Linked DNA regions of Homo sapiens: region 2 is linked to region 1. The links come from fine-mapping of genetic effects on gene expression. A gene starts in region 1. The other region holds a variant in brackets. All regions are shown on one strand. Distances are between the middles of the regions.

Region 1 (9,188 bases):
TCCACTTCATAAAACATGTCTTTATGAGTCTTTATTGTTCCCATATGTGTAGCTCCACAATATTTTTGCTGCAGAATACAAGAATTACATAGATCACTAAAGTCCACAGATAATTCAAAACCTTCTGCTAGCCAATTATTCAATCCCTTCCACTGCTACGCTATTTGCCAGAGATGCTAACAAATAGCATAGTCAACTGGTTTGGGTTTCATACACTTTTCCAGACATGCTTGCTTTCTAATGGCCTATTCAAACAAGAGATTTATTTCTCTTAATTCTAAGTCTTTGAGAATTTGACCAAGAGGCATGAAATGTTCAATTCATTCTTTAAAACTGTTGCCTGGGGTCCCCTTTTGTCCCCCATTTAAACCTATCCACTGTTTAACCACTTGTATCATTCCTGATTCTTCTGTCTTACAATTCTGTGCTACATTTCTCTGCATGTGGTTTTGATTACTGTTTTTTCTGTATTCTTTATTGTATTCTATTTTAATTCTCCAAAAACTCAATTTATACACTGTCCATGAACTTATGAAAAAAAAGTGAAAGCAAAAATGATTCTCCACAAAACAGAGCAGCCAACTGAAAACTTTAAAAGCTTGAAAATTTTATGAGGCAATTAATATGAACTGATATGACATCTTCAATTAGATTCAAAGACACTTAGGATTACAAAAATTAGTCAGGCATGGTGGTGCACGCTTGTATTTCCAGCTACTCAGGAGGCTGAGGCATGAGAATCACTTGAAACCGGAAGGCAGAGGCTTCAGAGAGCAGAGATCGTGTCACTGCACTCCAGCTTGGGTGACAGAGTGAGACTCTGTCTCAAAAAGAAAAAAAAAAGACACTTAAGATGAAGAGAATTCCAACTCCTTATCTTATAGATAAGAAAACCGAAACCCAGAGAAAGGCTAAGTGACTTGCCCAAAATGATACACACAACTAGATACATCTATGATCTTATACATAAAATTACGAATTATCACCAGGAATGGTTCTTTTCACAGTTAAGAATAGCCCCATGAAGTCTGTTCCCAAAACCTGTGCAGGCAGCCACAGTGGCAAAATTCCATATCTGGGCCGGGTGCAGTGGCTCATGCCTGTAATCCCAGCACTTTGGGAGGTGGAGGCAGAGGCAGGTGGATCACCTGAGGTCAGGAGTTCGAGACCAGCCTGGCCAACATGTCGAAACCCCATCTCTACTAAAAATACAAAAATTAACTGGGCGTGGTGGTGCGTGTATATAATTCCAACTACTCCAGAGGCTGAGGCAGGAGAATCACTTGAACCCAGGAGGTGGAGGTTGCACTGAGCCGAGACCACGCCACTGCACTCTGGCCTGGGCAGCAGACCGATACTCCTTTTATATATATATATATATAAAATAAAAATTAAAGAATAAAAAAATTCCATATCTGAAGTCATTCCTTTAGGTCAAAACATTATCTCAAAAATTCTGAGATAAATAAAGTTGTTATTAGGGAAAATGGGAGAGAGTAACAGGGGAAAATATTCTAGAGTGTTAGGTTCTAAGTTAGAAGGTAGAAAAAAAAATACATATAATCAAAATGACTCTTGAAATCACCCACACACCTAAGTCACCTATAGAGTCCAATATGTATGTTTATTCATTGTGTTTTTCTTGAGACAGAGTCTCACTCTGTCAGCCAGGCTGGAGTGCAGTGGCGCAATTTCAGCTCACTGCAACTTCTGCCTCCCGGGTTCAAGCAATTCTCCTGACTCAGCCTCCAGGGTAGCTGGGACTACAGGCATGCACCACCATGTCCGGCTAATTTTTGTATTTTTAGTAGGGACAGGGTTTCACCATGTTGGCCAGGCTGGTCTCGGCCTCAAGTGATCCGCCCACCTCGGTCTCCCAAAGTGCTGGGATTACAGGCGTGAGCCACCGTGCCTGGCCTAGACTTATGTCTTAATGAGTCCCACACAGTCAGGTTTTCCTTTAGCAATAGAACAGAATTTTTTTTTATCATCAGATAAAGTTGCTGACTGTAATTTAAAAAGTAGTTTGTTCCAAATACATATACCTTTATTTATTTATTTATTTATTAGACAGAGTCTCACTCTGTCACCCAGACTGGAGTGCAGTGATGTGATTTCGGCTCACTGTAACCTCTGCCTCCTGGGTTCAAGTGGAACCACAGGCACACTGGGACCACAGGTGTGTGCCACCACACCTAGCTAATTTTTGTATTTTTTGGTAAAGATGTGGTTTCTCTACCAAAATGTTGGCCAGGCTGGTCTTGAACCCCTAACCCCAAGTGATCCGCCTGCCTCAGCCTCCTGAAATGCGGAGATTACAGGCATGCACCACTGCACCTGATCCCAAAACACATACCTGTAAATAACAGACTAGCACTCTGCGAGGGTACAGAAAAACCAGTCTTGTCTCCCATGCTGTCCTTACTAAGGGGCCTACTCTCCCTGCATTGGACAGCTGGCCTCATGTACTATTTATCTGTTATTTGTCTCCCACTCTCTTCTTGATTTGCCTAGAAGTACCAGGTGAATTTGTGCCATTTAATGCGTATATGATCTGACTCCATGATATTCCCTTATTCCCATGTTTGTGTATGGATGTAGTGATCTAGGTTAGATACTGGATGTGTAGGTACTGCAGGAGGAGGTAAAGCCTGGACTCAGGGCAGGGCAGGTGCAGTGAAGACTCCTAAAGCAGCCTAGGGACTCGTGGGTGTGTGGAAGGAAGAAGTGTTGAAGGAAATAGGGAGAAGGTCATTCTCTGTGGGACAGACTTAGCTCCAAATGTGATTTTCACCATGTTCATGATTTTTCTTCCGTTTGAATTTGATAGACACATTGCAACACATCCCATTTCGCTGATTTTCAAATAAGGACTTGATCACTGGCAAGTGACCTTACAGCAAACATAAAGAAATCAACATTTGGAAGTGCATTTGCCAATTAGTGCTCTAGGCGGCAGAAAAACCAGACCGCCACCCCTTGAAGACCTGCCACAAAGAGCCATGTGGAAAAACTGCACAGAGAAATGGTGGTTGTGAACAAGAGTACTGCCCTGGAATGAAAGGTTTTAGGCTATGTTGGACTCACTGAAAAAAGAAAGGTTAGTCTCATTAGAAAGTTTACCTGGCTCTAAGAAAATAATTACTTATCTGCTAACACAACTTCCATAGCAATGAAACAAGTTCCTGTAAGTATAAATTATCACAATTCCAAGCAGACAAAAATCTGTGTCTCCTGAACACATTATAGGGGTCAGCCTATAGATAACTCCATTATAGGGGTCCTCCTAAAGATAACCTAAGTTATCTTGCATATTGTGTCTGCAGTGTCCACAATGAGTTGGTCTGTATTCACACTGGATGATACAGGATTTCTCCACCAGGTCCTCTCACAGGACTCCAGGCATTTTTACAACTTGACCACACAAAAGAACACTCAGGCTGCTCCTCCCTTGCTCAAGGGAAGTACAGTAATGCCTCTCTCCGTAGCCCTTTCATAAGACTGTGCATAGATAAACACAGGTGTATACATAGCAATCTTTATGAACTTTGCATTGAATGTGTCAAAGAACAGTGGCGGTCCCAACATTCCATCCATTGTCTCAATCAGGAAAGCTACTCCTGAGACCTCAGGAAAGAGGAGGAAAAAATTCAAGTAACACATATGTTTACGAAACACTTCAGTAACAAAACAAAATACTTGTATTGGAGAGAAAATATATATATTTTTAATCACAAGGCATAGAAAGTAAAAATAATCAGCCTTAATTAGGTTTCCTTCATTAGTTGACAATGTAAATGGACTGAAACTACTACTCAAATATTCAAACCTTCATTTTACATGCAAGTGGCTTCCAGAAAATGATAAAGCAATATTCCCATGTGAGTGTGAAAGATGGCAATGAATTCTGGCCCATTATAAAGGAAGAGTCAGATTCCACTAGTCACTGCTTCGTTTAACTGCCAGGCTTTTAGGGAGCTATTTAATAAAAGGGGTCTCGCCCTAATAAATTGTGAGCGGTGTAAATAGGTGAGTGGTGTAAATATCTGAAATAGCCTGCACTCAATGAGGCTGTAGACCGCTTGGGGTTCACAGACTTTACAAAAATCATTCCGTAAAAAAATTACGTAGTGACAATCCTACCATTTAAAAAGAATAATGATGGTGATAATAATAGCTGGACAGGATCCTCCACTGCTGCCTGCTTCCCACATAAGTTGCCCAGCTGAAGGTGGTTAAGTTAAAGCCAGTTCTCTCCCCATTAGAGATGCGGGCTGGCAGCTGGCGGGGGAAGTCACCCAGTTTCCAGCTCCCCGTGGGTTTGACGGGACTGGGATTGCAACTGGGAACTAACTGGCTTGTAGGAAGCCCAGGTGGCTCAGACAGGGCTCGAGCTGTCCCCTCACCACCTTCCTCCCACGCAGACACCAAGTTAGATACGCAACTCCACGAGCACAATGACAAGAAGGCACACAAAAGGAGCAAGGCAGCCGCTCCCATCCTTACCTTTGACTTGACTTTCATACTCGGCTATGATCTCTTTGTCCTTCTTGAATCGGCTCGGGGTGGACATTATCCAGCTGTTCCGGGTTTGCTTTCAATGGGCAAGTTTTGTTCAGTGGTCACAACCCGTTCTCCTTGGAGAGGCAGAGTTGTACTCCCACACGCAGGCAATCCAGAGGCAGCGCCGACCCGAGGGAAGGGAGGAGGGAGAGGAGAAGTAGGAGGAGGAGGGGAAAAAGAGCGAGTAGAGAGGACTAGATTAGCCCGGGCGCTGGCACCATACTCTCGAAATTGAGCTCCGTCGGTAATCCCAGGGGATCCCCGGGGGAGAGGCCGGACGCGCAGGCAAACTCCAGCCAGCGAGTGGCGGGGGACGTCTCCCTGCCCACCTCGCCGGGAGCCCGGCCACTTCCTCTACGGCCGCTGGGCGGGCGCGGGGCTCGCGCCGGCGCTCCGCACCATTGTTCGAGACCCGCACCGGGCGCCCGGGACAGGGCCAGCGGCGGAGGGCAGGCGCTGGGAACGCGCCCAGCTCGGGCGCCACAACCCTCCCTTCCTGCCTCCAGCTGTCGGCTCCGGCGCTCAAGGGTCCCGCCCGGGCTGGGGATGCTGCTGCCACGGCCGCCGCTCCTCTGCCCGCAGACACTGCCGCTACAGCTCGGCAGGCGAAAGGAATCGCAGTCCTGACGCGAGTCCCCGCTGCTGCTGAGAGGGTGAAGGCGGCGACGCTCAGACGCGCCCTGGGCACAGCCCCGGCGGAGTTTAGGTCTCCAGAGCCGGCGCCGCGAGGGGCCTCTGCCTCCCTGGCCGCGGTGCGCCGAGGCTGCCTTTCTCTGCGTCCCCCTTTCCGCTGCTGCCCCCAGGAGGCCGCTAGTGACAGGCACACTCGCACACGCACGCGGGAGCCGCGCCCCCGGCGGCAGCAAAGTTGAGGGTGCGCACACGGCTCGCGCCTCGCGGGCGCCCGGCTAGCGATCTGCGGGCGGTGGCTCCTCGGGGCTCCGCCAGGCGGGGCCAGGCTCGCGGGAGCGGACCGCGCTCCGGCCTGTGCCCTTCTCCGTCCAAGCTCCCGCCCCTGCTCCGCTAGGAAACGCCTGGCTGGTCCGGGAAGATGGATGCCTCTTGTGGCCAACCGCAGCCCGGCCCCGCGCGCCGAGCCCAGGAGGCCGTGGGCGGCGCCCCCGGCACCTCCCTCCGCCGAGGCCCCGCACCTCCCTCCGCCGAAGCCCCGCTCCACCGCTAGCCGAGGTCGCGGCTCCGGCGGCAGGAAAACCCCTTCCTGACCTGAGGGACCGCCTTCTGGCTCTGGCGGGGGCTCTGGTGGGGCTTTTGCCAGAATCTAATGGGGAAGTCCAGAGTTGGATGTATCCATGACACAAAGGGATGTTACTCCGAGACGCTGGACCCCAATAGAAAAACTGAACACTGAATTGTGAATGACCTGGCTGTTAATCCAAAGAGCGCGAAGCTCTTCAATCGAGGCGGAGAAAAACACCCACCTTGAACACCATATCCTCTATTCCTACAGTAGATAGGGAAGCTAGGATGGTAGGAAAGCGATGGTATGGAAACACGTCACACTTAACGGCGTTGTTAGCTTATTTATTTACTAAACTCCAGATTTTATTCCAATTTTACCAATTTTTTCGACTAGTGTCATTTTTTCTGTTCCAAGATCCAACACAGGACACTACATTGCACTTAGTACTTTTACGGTTGTTTTTGTTTTTGTTTTTTGATTTTGTTTTTTGGGGGTTTTTTTTGAGACGGGGTCTCACTCTCGCCCAGGCTGGAGTGCAGGGGCACGAGCTCCGCTCACTGCAACCTCCGCCTCCCGGGTTCAAGTGATTCTCCTGGCTCAGCCTCCAGAGTAGGTGTGACTACAGGCGCCCGCCACCGTGCCTGGGTAATTTTTGTATCTTTAGTAGAAACAGGGTTTTGCCATGTTGGTCAGGCTGGTCTTGAACTCCTGACCTCAAGTGATCCGCTCACCTCGGCCTCCCAAAGTGGTAGGATTACAGGTGTGAGCCACGGCGCCCGGCCACGTTTTTAATAGATACCTTTTACAAGATCTATCGTGTCTAGTCTCTTTTTATTTTATTTGTTTGTTTGTTTTCATTTTAGTACAGACGGGGGTCTCCCTATGTTGTCCAGGCTGGTCTCAAACTCTAGTCTCTTTTTGAACAATATAACGAAGAATTTACCTTGCCATCTTTGCATGGTTCAGGTGTTGTGTTAAGTACTTTAAATCCATCCTTGCCAGCCTTTTAAATTTTTTTTTATTATTTTTACTTTTTTGTAGAGATGAAGCCTTGCTCTATGGCCCAGGCTGGTCTCAAACTCCTGGCCTCAAAAGATTCTGGCTGGGCACGGTGGTTTACACCAGTAATCCCAGCACTTTGGGAGGCCGAGGTGGGCAGATCACAAGGTCAAGAGTCCGAGACCAGCCTGGCCAACATGGTGAAACCCCATCTCTACTAAAAATATAAAACTTAGCCGGGCATGGTGGCATGTGCCTATAATCCCAGCTACTCAGGAGGCGGAGGCAGGAGAATCGCTTGAACCCAGGAGGTGGAGGTTGCAGTGAGCCAAGATTGCACCACTGCACTCCAGCCTGGGCGACAGAGGGAGACTCCTTCTCAAAAAAAAAAAAAAAAAAAAAAAAGAAAATCCTCCGACCTCAGCCTCCCAAAGCACTGGGATTACAAGCATCAGCCACCACACCTGGTTCTGTTAGCCTTTTTGACTCACACCACTTGAGATATTTACTGACTCCTTTCAAATCAATTCTCAAATATTATGGGCCTGATTTATCAAAATGATGTGTCCAAAGGTGTATCCCCTCAAGTGTTTTCCCCACAAGATCTAAAGAAAGTAGGGACTTTTAGACTTTGATCATTCTTTCATGTATCCAGTGATCGGCTCTCCAGTTCTTAACTCTGTGCCAAACACCACGCTAGGAACTAGGGATTCAAAGATTAAGACTGCCGGAAAGGATCATGCAGTCTATTACTGTATAAATAAATAATTACAAGCAGTACAATAATGCTGTAAGAGATAGAAATACTCCCAGTCTTGGGAGCACTGGGGATGGAAAAACAGACTGCATAAGAGGATTGGGTGTAAGAGTTCGCAGAGGAGTGGTTTTGAGCTGGATTTAAAGGATGAATAGTAAGTAGCTGGCAACTTTAGGGAGGAAAAGGGATGCATTCCAGGGAAAAGGAAGAGTGTTATACTCTAGAGGAATTGCAAATAGAGTGACAAGATATCTTCCACTAAGATACCAGATCTCTGCTAGATGGTGAAAAATAATGTAAAAAATTGTAATATATGTATATGCATGTGTCAGCTGATAGTATGTGGGTATGTGGACATTGTTAATTGCACTGCTTTTTTAAAATCTAATTTTAGCAAGTTTTTTTTACTTTATAGCAACAGAATATATGTAAAGAAAATATGCCAATTTTTTTTAAGTTTTTTTTTCAGTCTTTTTTTCATTTTACCACACAGGCAGTTATACTATGGCACCCCTGGCTGCCCTAATTTCACGTGGAGCTGTCTTATGTAAGAGTGTACGGTGAAGAGAAAGCAGAGGCTGGAAGGAAGGTCAGGGCCAGCTGGGAGAGTCCTCCTGTGCCATGCTAAGATCTTGGACACAGTTCTGCAGACAGCAGGGAGCCTTTTAAGTAGAGAAGTATCACGATCAGATTTGTGTTTTATAAAGATAACTGTTGGCAGTGTAGAAGGATGGGTTAGCCATAGAGAAAGAGAGACCAGGCAGGCAGCCTACTTAGGTGATAATCATAGTCACATCTAAATGGGATTCATATCCATGATGCTGTTGGGATTTGTTTCATATTTGCACCTGGGAAGCACAAGTTGACAGCAGAGATTGCAGCACCTAGAAATGAATTGTTGCCTGAGTCTAGACCTAAATCAGTGTGTTGCAAACAAGCCCCAGAGACAGGGTGCCCAGAGGTGAATCCTAAATCTGCTGTTTCCTAAGGGATCTGGTAAAAATTACTATTCTCTCTAGGCCTTAGTTTGTAAAATGGGTTACAAATTTTCCTTATCTGTAAAATTGGTTAATGCCTAAGTCCTGGGGATGTTATAAGCACTTACTGAGATAAACCCTTAAAAGTACTTGTAGGCCATGGTATACACCCAGTGAGTATTAGTTATCTTTACAATTATTATCTTAGTTTTACTCTTCCTAATAGAAAGCTATCTAAAAATCAGAGATAGGCTGGGCGTGGTGGCTCATGCCTGTAATCTAAACACTTTGGGAGGCTGAGGTGGGAGGATTGCTTGAGCCCAGGAGTACAAGACCAGCCTCATTTCTACAAAGAATAAATAAAGATCAGAGATAATGTTTCATCTTTAATTTTATTATGGTGTTCAATACACAGTCAATAAAATGTATTGAATATTAATGCCACCATTAGTAGGCCACCATTTTATTGTTGTTGAAGATGGGATATACCCACTAAGGTAAGAATTTTGCACACATTCTCAGAAGAACCCTACATGGCGGACACCATTGTCCTCATTTTACAGATGAGAATCTGGAGGCTCAGAAAATTCAGTAAATGTCTGGCCTGGCAGGGTCAGAATTCCAGTTCACATCTGCCTGTCTCCAAAGTGGGTACTCTTTCCAATTTTCCATTCCACTTCCTATGAACTTA
Region 2 (9,188 bases), 290 kb before region 1:
CAGGGTCTTGGTCTGTCACCCTGGCTGGAGTGCAGTAAGACAATCATAACTCACTGCAGCCTCCAACTCCTGGGCTCAAGCAACTCTCTCGCCTCAGCTTCCAAAGTACCTGGGATTGCAGACATGCACCACCACTCTTAGTGTGATGGTTAATACTGAGTGTCAACTTGATTGAAGGATGCGAAGTATTAATCCTGGGTGTATCTGTGAGGGTGTTGCCAAAGGACATTAACATTGGAGTTAGTGGGCTGGGGAAGGCAGACCTACCCCTAATCTGGATGGGCACCATCTAATCAGATGCCAGCGAATATAAAGCAAACAGAAGAACGTGAAAAGGTTAGACTGGCCTAGCCTCCCAGCCTACATCTTTCTCCCATGCTGGATGCTTCCTGCTCTTAAACATCAGACTCCAAGTTCTTCAGTTTTGGAACTTGGACCGACTCCTTGCTCCTCAGCCTGCAGACGGCTTATTGTGGGACCTTGTGATTGTGTGAGTTAATAATAAACTCACCTTTATATGTATATGTATTCCATTAATTCTGTACCTCCAGAGAGCCCTGACTAATACAGGTTTTGGTACCAGGAGTGGTTCTAGAGGGACAGAATATTAAGGATGGAGTTCTTTCATTGATTTTGGGGCTTCTGCTTTATATGATTAGACCAAAAAATACTAAGGACTTTACTTCTAATAGGATGGAGAACACTGATAGTTCTTGGTGTGAACTGTTTAGAGAGTTATGCAAAATACGTGCATTTGACACTCCTGATTCATCGCTCGTGAGAGGCAAGGAGTTTAGTGACTCCGTACATAATACATTTGTATGGAGTATTATGTAGAGAACCAAGGAACATAGTGAAGCTGGTTGGTTGTTCCTAAGTTCAGTGGACAAAGTGATGAAAAAAAATGATGAACTCAAGGATTCTATCTCCTGGCTTCAGAAGCAGATACTGAACCTCAAATCTGCTAAGACTGCCCTGAGTGTGAGTCTTATCTCCCACAGATAAAGAACTAAAATTATGGAGAACCAGACACGAGTTCTTATGCAAGTCGCTGACCTGCAATGAAAGATACATGCACAGCCTCACCAGGTGTCTACTGTTAAAGTGAGGGCATTGATTAGAAAAGAATGGGACCCTGCAACTTGGAATGGGGATGTGTGGGAGGACCCTGATGAAGCTGGGGGCACTGAGTTTGTAAACCCTGATGAACCTTTTTTGCCAGAAGAAACAGCTTCCCTATCCCCAGTAGCGGCAACATCCCCTCCCTGACCCATGCTGCCATCAGCCTTTCCACCTTTGTCTGAGGAGATAAACCCTGTGCTGCCTGAGGCAATGGTGATGGCCTCCCATGAGGCAGCTGCCAGGCAAGATAATGTTGACTCTCCTCAGGAGCCACCTCCAACACTTCTGTTTGCTTCTAGACCTGTAACTAGACTAATATCCCGGCAGGCCCCTGGAGGTGAGGTTGAGAGTGTGACCCATGAAGAGGTGTGCCACACTAGAAAAGAACTGCTTGAGTTTTCTAATTTATATAAATAGAAATCTGGATAACAGGCATGGGAATGGATATTAATGGTGTGGGATAATGGTAGATGGAACATAGAGTCAGATCAGGCTGAATTTATTGATTTGGGCCCATTAAGTAGGAGCTCTGCATTTAATGTTGCAGCTCGGGGAGTTAAAAAAGGTTCTAATAGTTTATTTGCTTGGTTAACTGAAATATGGATTGAAAGATGGCCCACTGTGAGCACTGTGAGTGAGCTGAAAATGCCTGCTCTCCCTTGGTTTAATGTAGAGGAAGGGATCCAAAGGCTTAGGGAGATTGGGATGGTGGAGTGGATTAGTCACTTTAGACTTACTCATCCCAGCTGGGAGAGTCCTTGACCAATGCCTTGCAAAACAGATTTGTGAGAGCAGCACTTGCATCTTTTTTTTTTTTTTTGAGATGGAGTCTTGCTGTGTCGCTCAGGCTAGAGTGCAGTGGCGCAATCTTGGCTCACTGCAAGCTCTGCCTCCCGGGTTCACGCCATTCTCCTGCCTCAGCCTCCCAAGTAGCTGGGACTACAGGCACCCACCACCACTCCCAGCTAATTTTTTAGATTTTTAGTAGAGACGGGGTTTCACCATGTTAGCCAGGATGGTCTCAATCTCCTGACCCCGTGATCTGCCTGCCTTGGCCTCCCAAAGTGCTGAGATTATAGGCATGAGCCACCGCACTTGGCCAGCACTTGCATCTTTGAAGAGCCCTGTAATTGCTGTTCTCTGTATGTCAGATCTAACGGTGGGAACCACAGTCACTCAACTACAAAATTTAAATACAATGGAGATAATTGGATCCCAAGGTAGCAGGAGCCAAGTGGCAACACTCAATCATCAAAGGCAAGGCGACACTCAATCATCAAAGGCAAGGTGGGCATAGCTACAGTAATGCACAGCAGAGGCAAAGCAGCAAGCAGAATAGTCTGACTCGTGTAGAACTCTGGCATTGGCTAATTAATCACGTTGTTCCTAAAAGTGAAATTGATAGGAAGCCTACTGCATTCCTACTTAATTTACACAAGCAGAAAACTTCTAGGTTGGATGGACAAAAGACTAATTTGAATTATGAAAACAGAGAATCATGGCCCCTCAATCAATTTCCAGACTTGACCCAGTTTACAGACCCAGAACCCCTTGAATGAAGAGGAGGCCAGGTCCCTTTGAGGAAGGACCCCGCTATATTACTGACAATTTATGCAGTGAATCTTTATCCCATCCTTCCCCAAGGGGACCTCCAGCCTTTTACCAGGGTAACTGTGTAATGGGGAAAGGGAAATGATCAGACATTTTGGGGACTAATGGACACTGGCTCTGAGCTGACACTGATTCCAGGGGACCCAAAATGTCGTTGTGGTGCTCCAGTTAAAGTAGTGGCTTGTGGAGGTCAGGTAATTAATGGAGTTTTAGCTCAGGTCTGACTTACAGTGAGTCTAATGGGTCCCCAGACTTCTCCTGTGGTCATTTCCCCAGTGCCAGAATGCATAATTGGCACAGACATACTTAGCAGCTGGCAGAACCCCCACATTGGCTCTGGACTGGTAGGGTGGGGGCTATTATGGTGGGAAAGGCCAAATGGAAGCCATTAGAGCAGGCTTTACCTAGAAAAATAGTAAATTAAAAACAATATTGCATCCCTGGAGGGACTGTAGAGATTAATGCCACCATCAAGGACTTGAAAGATGCAGGGGTGGTGATTCCCACCACATCCTCATTCAACTCTCCCATTTGGCCTGTGCAGAAGACAGATGGATTCTGGAGAATGACAGTGGATTATTGTAAGCTTAACCAAGTGGTGACTCCAAGTGCAGCTGCTGTACCAGATGTGGTTTCATTGCTTGAGCAAATTAACACATCTCCTGGTATGTGGATTGGAGCCACTGACTTGGAAAATGCCTTTTTCTCCATTCTTGTCCATAAGGCCCACCAGAAGTAATTTGCTTTCAGCTGGCAAGGCCAGCAATATACCTTTACTGTCCTACCTCAGGGGTATAGCAACTCTCTGGCTTTGTGTCATAATCTTACTCGGAGAGACCTTGATTGCTTTTTGCTTCCGCAAGATATTACACTGGTCCATTACATTGATGACATTATGCTGACTGGATCCAGTGAGCAAGAAGTAGCAAACACACTGGACTTATTGGTGAGACATTTGTGTGCTAGAGGATGGGAAATAAATCTGACTAAAATTCAGGGACCTTCTACCTCAGTAAAATTTTTAGAGGTCCAGTGGTGTGGGGCCTATCAAGATATTCCTTCTAAGATGAAGGATAAGTTGCTGCGTTTGGCCCCTCCTGCAAACAAGAAAGAGGCACAACGCCTAGTGGGCCTATTTGGATTTTGGAGGCAACACGTTCCTCTTTTGGGTGTGTTACTCTGGCCCATTTATCGAGTGACTCAAAAGGCTGCCAGTTTTGAGTGGGGTCCAGAACAGGAGAAGGCTCTGCAACAGGTCCAGGCTGCTGTGCAAGCTGCTCTGCCACTTGGGCCATATGACCCATCAGATCCAATGGTGCTTGAGGTGTCAGTGGCAGATAGGGATGCTGTTTAGAGCCTTTGGCAGGCCCCCATAGGTGAATCACAGCGGAGGCCTCTAGGATTTTGGAGCAAGGCCCTGCCTTCTTCTGCAGATAACTGCTCTCCTTTTCTTTTTGAGATGGAGTCTCTGTCTGTCACCCAGGCTGGAGTGCAGTGGCGTGATCTTGGCTCACTGCAACGTCACCTCTCTGGTTCAAATGATTCTTCTGCCTCAACCTCCCGAGTAGTTGGGACTACAGGCGTGTGCCACCACACTTGGCTAATTTTTGCATTTTTAGTAGAGATCGGGTTTCACCATATTGGTCAGGCTGGTCTTGAACTCCTGACCTCGTGATCTACCCGCCTTGGCTTCCCAAAGTGCTGGGATTACAGGCATGAGCCACTGCGCCTGGCCAACTACTCTCCTTTTGAGAGACAGCTCTTGGCCTGTTACTGGGCTTTGGTGGAAACTGAACGTTTGACCATGGGTCATCAAGTCACCATGCAACCTGAACTGCCTATTATGAACTGGGTGCTTTCTGACACATCTAGCCATAAAGCGGGTCGTGCACAGCAGCATTCCATCATCAAATGGAAGTGGTATATATGTGATCGAGCTCATGCAACTCCTGAAGGCATAAGTTACATGAGGAAGTGGCTCAAATGCCCAGGCTGCACTGATGGCCTCATGGGGAGTTCCCTATGATCACTTGACAGAGGAAGAGAAGACTAGGGCCTGGTTCACAGACGGTTCTGCATGATATGCAGGCACCACCCGAAAGTGGACAGCTGCAGCACTACAGCCCCTTTCTAGGACATCCCTGAAGGACAGTGGTGAAGGGAATCTTTCCCAGTGGGCAGAACTTCGAGCAGTGCACCTGGCTGTGCACTTTGCATGGAAGGAGGAATGGCCAGATGTGTGATTATACACTGATTCGTGGACTGTAGCCAATGGTTTGGCTGGATGGTCAGGGACTTAGAAGAAGTATGATTGCAAAATTGGTGACAAATTTGTGGAAGAGGTATGTGGATGGACCTCTCTGAGTGGTCAAAAACTGTGAAGATATTTGTATACCATGTGAGTACTCACCAACGGGTGACCTCAGCAGAGGAGGATTTTGATAATCAAGTGGATAGGATGAGCCATTCTGTGGACACCATTCAGCCTCTTTCCCCAGCCACCCCTGTTCTTGCTCAATGGGCCCATGAACAAAGTGGCCATAGTGGCAGGGATGGAGGTTACTCATGGGCTCAGCAACATGGACTTCCACTCACCAAGGCTGACCTGGCTATGGCCACTGCTTAGTGCTCAATTTGCCAGCAGCAGAAGCCAACACAGCCCTCGATATGGCACCATTCCTCAGGGTGATCAGCCAGCTACCTGGTGGCAGGTTGATTACACTGGACCTCTTCCATCATGAAAAGGGCAGAGGTTTGTCCTCACTGGAATAGACAGTTACTCCGGATATGGGTTTGCCTATCCTGCACACAATGCTTCTGCCAAGACTACCATCTGTGACTCATGGAATGCCTTATCCACCATGATGGTATTCCACACAGCATT[A/G]CCTCTGACCAAGGCACTTACTTTATGGCTAAAGAAGAGTGGCAGTGGGCTCATGCTCATGGAATTCATGGGTCTTACCATGCTCCCTATCATCCTGAAGCAGCTGGATTGACAGAATGGTGGATTGGTCTTGTGATGTCACAATTGCAACACCAACTAGGTGACAATACTTTGCAGGGCTGGGGCAAAGTTCCCCAGAAGGCTGTGTATGCTCTGAATCTGTGTCCAATACATGGTGCAGTTTCTCCCATAGCCAGGATTCACGGGTCCAGGAATCAAGAGGTGGAAGTGGAAGTGGCACCATTCATCATTATCCCTAGTGACCCCCTAGCAACATTTTTACTTCCTGTTCCCGCGACATTATGTTCTGCTGGCCTAGAGGTCTCAGTTCCAGAGGGAGGAATGTGCCACCAGGAGACACAGCAACAATGCCATTGAGTTAAGATTGCCACCTGGACACTTTGGGCTCCTCCTACCTTTAAGGCAACAGACTAAGAAGGGAGTTACAGTGTTGGCTAAGGTGACTGACTCAGACTATCAAGATGAAATCAGTCGACTACTCCACGATGCAGGTAAAAAAGAGTGTGCATGGAATACAGGAGATCCATTAGGGCGTTTCTTAGTATTACCACGCTCTGTGATTAAGGTCAATGGGAAACTACAATAGCCCAATCCAGGCAGGACTACAAATGGCCCAGACCCTTCAGGAATGAAGGTTTGGGTCACTCCGCCAGGAAAACAACAACAACAACAACAACAACAACAACAACCACGACCTGCTGAGGTGCTTGCTGAAGGCAAAGGGAATACGGAATGGGTAGTAGAAGGTAGTCATCAATACCAGCTATGACCACGTGGAAACAGGGACTGTAATTGTCATGAGTATTTCCTTCTTTCGTTAAAAACATGTTTGTGCATGTATACACTTGTACTAGGAAAATATCTTCATTTTATTTCCTTTTTCCTTTAGCATGTGACATAAGATTATATTGACTTCCTATCAGCATTTAAGTATTGTTAACTTTATGTAATAGCATTTGGGTTGGGGATTGGTGTGTTTCCGGTTATAGGAAAGGACAGTTGTATCATGTTAGGCGTAATTATGACATTATTGTTTTTATTTGAAGATTATGTACGATCTCAGGAGATGTTTATGGGTTCAAGTTGACAAGGGGTAGACTTGTGATGGTTAATACTGAGTGTCAACTTGATTGGATTGAAGGATGCAAAGTGTTACTCCTGGGTGTGTCTGTGAGGGGGTTGCCAGAGGAAATTAACATTTGAGTCAGTGGGCTGGGGAAGGCAGACCCACCCTTAATCTGGATGGGCACCATCTAATTAACTGCCAGTGAACATAAAGCAGGCAGAAAAACATGAAAAGGTTAGACTGGCCTAGCCTCCCAGCCTACGTCTTCCTCCCGTGCTGTATGCTTCCTGCCCTTGAACATCAGACTCCAAGTTCTTCAGTTTTGGAACTTGGACTGGCTCTCCTTGCTCCTCAGCCTGCAGATGGCCTATTGTGGGACTCTGTGATTGTGTGAGTTAATACTTAATAAACTCCCCTTTATATGTATATATATTCCATTAATTCTGTCCCTCTAGAGAATCCTAATATACCTAGGTAATTAAAAAAAAATTTTTTTTTTTAGACACGGGATTTTGCTATATTGACCAGGCTTGTCTCAAACTCCTAACCTCAAGCTATCTTCTTGCCTCAGCCTCCTAAAGTGTTGGGATTACAGGTGTAAGCCACCCACTAGGCCTACGAACATATGTTCTCATGGCCTGTGCTGTGAAAAGAGCCAGAACCAGAGGGAAAAATGGTAGAATGATGGGCAAATTTATTAGTATTGTTTCCCTTTTACTTGGTCAATTTTAGTCATTAGAAGAAAACTACACAGCCCCTCTGCAGTCACTGTTGGGAAGCAAAGACCTGAATGTGTTCAGGAGGTACATAGGATCCAGACTTGTTCTTCAAATATCTATCTATTATTGATCACATTATTTATTAGGTCTCATCTTTTCTAAGTTGAAAGTGCCATCTTTATCATATACAGTAGGGGTTTGCACTATCTGTGGCTTCAGGCATCCACTGGGGGTCTTGAAACATATGCCCTGCAGATAAGGAGGGACTACTGTTTTAAGGTTTTTCTGTTTCTGGGCTCTCCATTCTGTTTCATCCATCTGTCTGTTTTACTAGCTTTAGAATGCATTTAGGATCTGGCAGGGCCACTGCTTTCCCATTCTTCTTTTTCAAAGTTTTTCTGGCTATTCACAATGATAGGTTTGAGTGTCCTGGTCCTACGTTTTTGTCATGTTTCTGTTTAAATCACTATGAACCTTTGGGCCCTTTCAGTAACAAATTGTTCAAAAAAGACTCAGGGCCTAAGTTAAAGAATGAGCTGGTTTTGTTTCTGTTTTCTTTAGTTGGTTCTATACAGAAATATAAAGTAAATAAAGTAAAAAGTAAATAAAGTAAATCTTTCACACCTCCTACATCACACTTAGGTACTTAAAATGCAATATGTAATTAAAAGCATCGTACCTGAGCAATTGTCTCTGGGTCCAGTGGCTTGTGGTCATTGAAGCCCGTGTATTGCCCTGATGACGTGGACCTTCTAATGGGAGGGCTGTCGATCTTCTTGAGGGAGTCGTGCCGGCTGATGTTGGTCAGGCTGCCATGGCCAGGCCTGCGCCTCCGCTCAGGACTGTCATTGTTGAGGCCACGGTTCTGCAGCAGGCCCCGGGGGTGACTGGCAAGGCTTGGGGACCCTAGGTCAACTGAGGAGTTAGAAAGGGCATGTGGAGGGTGGAGCGGGCAATGGCCATCACTGGTCCTGCCAGGACGCCTTACTGGAGGGGGTGGCTCTCCTCTTTTTCGTTGCCTAGACATTCACAGAAACAGGGAGAAAACAGAAGAGCTTATCACACCGGGCAGTACTGCAAGGCTGAGGTGCAGTGGCTCCTCATGGCCCCAGGAGGAGCGGAGGCTTAGGGGCCTGATTCCCAGGCTCTACTTACCTGGCTAAATAGCCGTCAGGATGACGGTCTGTCGGGGAGTTCATGTCCTTGGATGAGGACTTGTCTTCCGTGACTGGCCCACTGCTGGCCTCACTGTCGGCTTTTTGGCTCAGAGTGTCTGAAAACGTATCATCCCTGAAGCAGTAAGAGGAATGGAGACAAAATTTACTAGATTTACAAATTTTACAAAATTTGCTAGATGAGTGGAGATGAAAATTTACGTGATAGCATTTATGTATGAAATAGCATTATGCATGAAAGCCCTTCTTTTATTAAAATAACTTTTCTCTTTTCATTATAAAAGCAATACAATTTCATTACAGGTACAACAGCAATTTCAGTTATACAAAAAAGACTGAAATAATCACCCATAATATAACATCCAGAGACAACTACTGTTAGAATTTTAAGAAATATCCTCCTCCATCTTCTATTCTATGCCTGGGATACATATCTGTGATTGTGTACATACATATGTATGGCATTTATACTACAGTCACGTGTTGCTTAACGGCGAGGATACGTTCTGAGAAATGCGTTGTCAAGCAAT

Evidence for each region.
Region 2: its variant is fine-mapped to the expression of SRGAP1 in testis (GTEx, PIP 0.96).

What each region holds. Positions count from the first base shown.
Region 1 is chr12:63,840,202-63,849,389 of GRCh38, reverse strand. It overlaps SRGAP1 (SLIT-ROBO Rho GTPase activating protein 1), which reads right to left and starts at 4,690. Exons shown (of 22, transcript NM_020762.4): 1 at 4,507-4,690. The coding sequence starts at 4,573. RefSeq lists silencers at 4,848-5,107, 5,218-5,277, 5,338-5,757 and enhancers at 4,684-5,183, 5,184-5,685.
Region 2 is chr12:64,127,175-64,136,362 of GRCh38, reverse strand. SRGAP1 (SLIT-ROBO Rho GTPase activating protein 1) reads right to left here. Exons shown (of 22, transcript NM_020762.4): 20 at 8,639-8,773; 21 at 8,163-8,502. It overlaps LOC105369798 (a long non-coding RNA gene), which reads left to right and starts at 5,631. Exons shown (of 2, transcript XR_945018.2): 1 at 5,631-6,189. The variant A/G (reference allele first, on the strand shown) is at 5,618.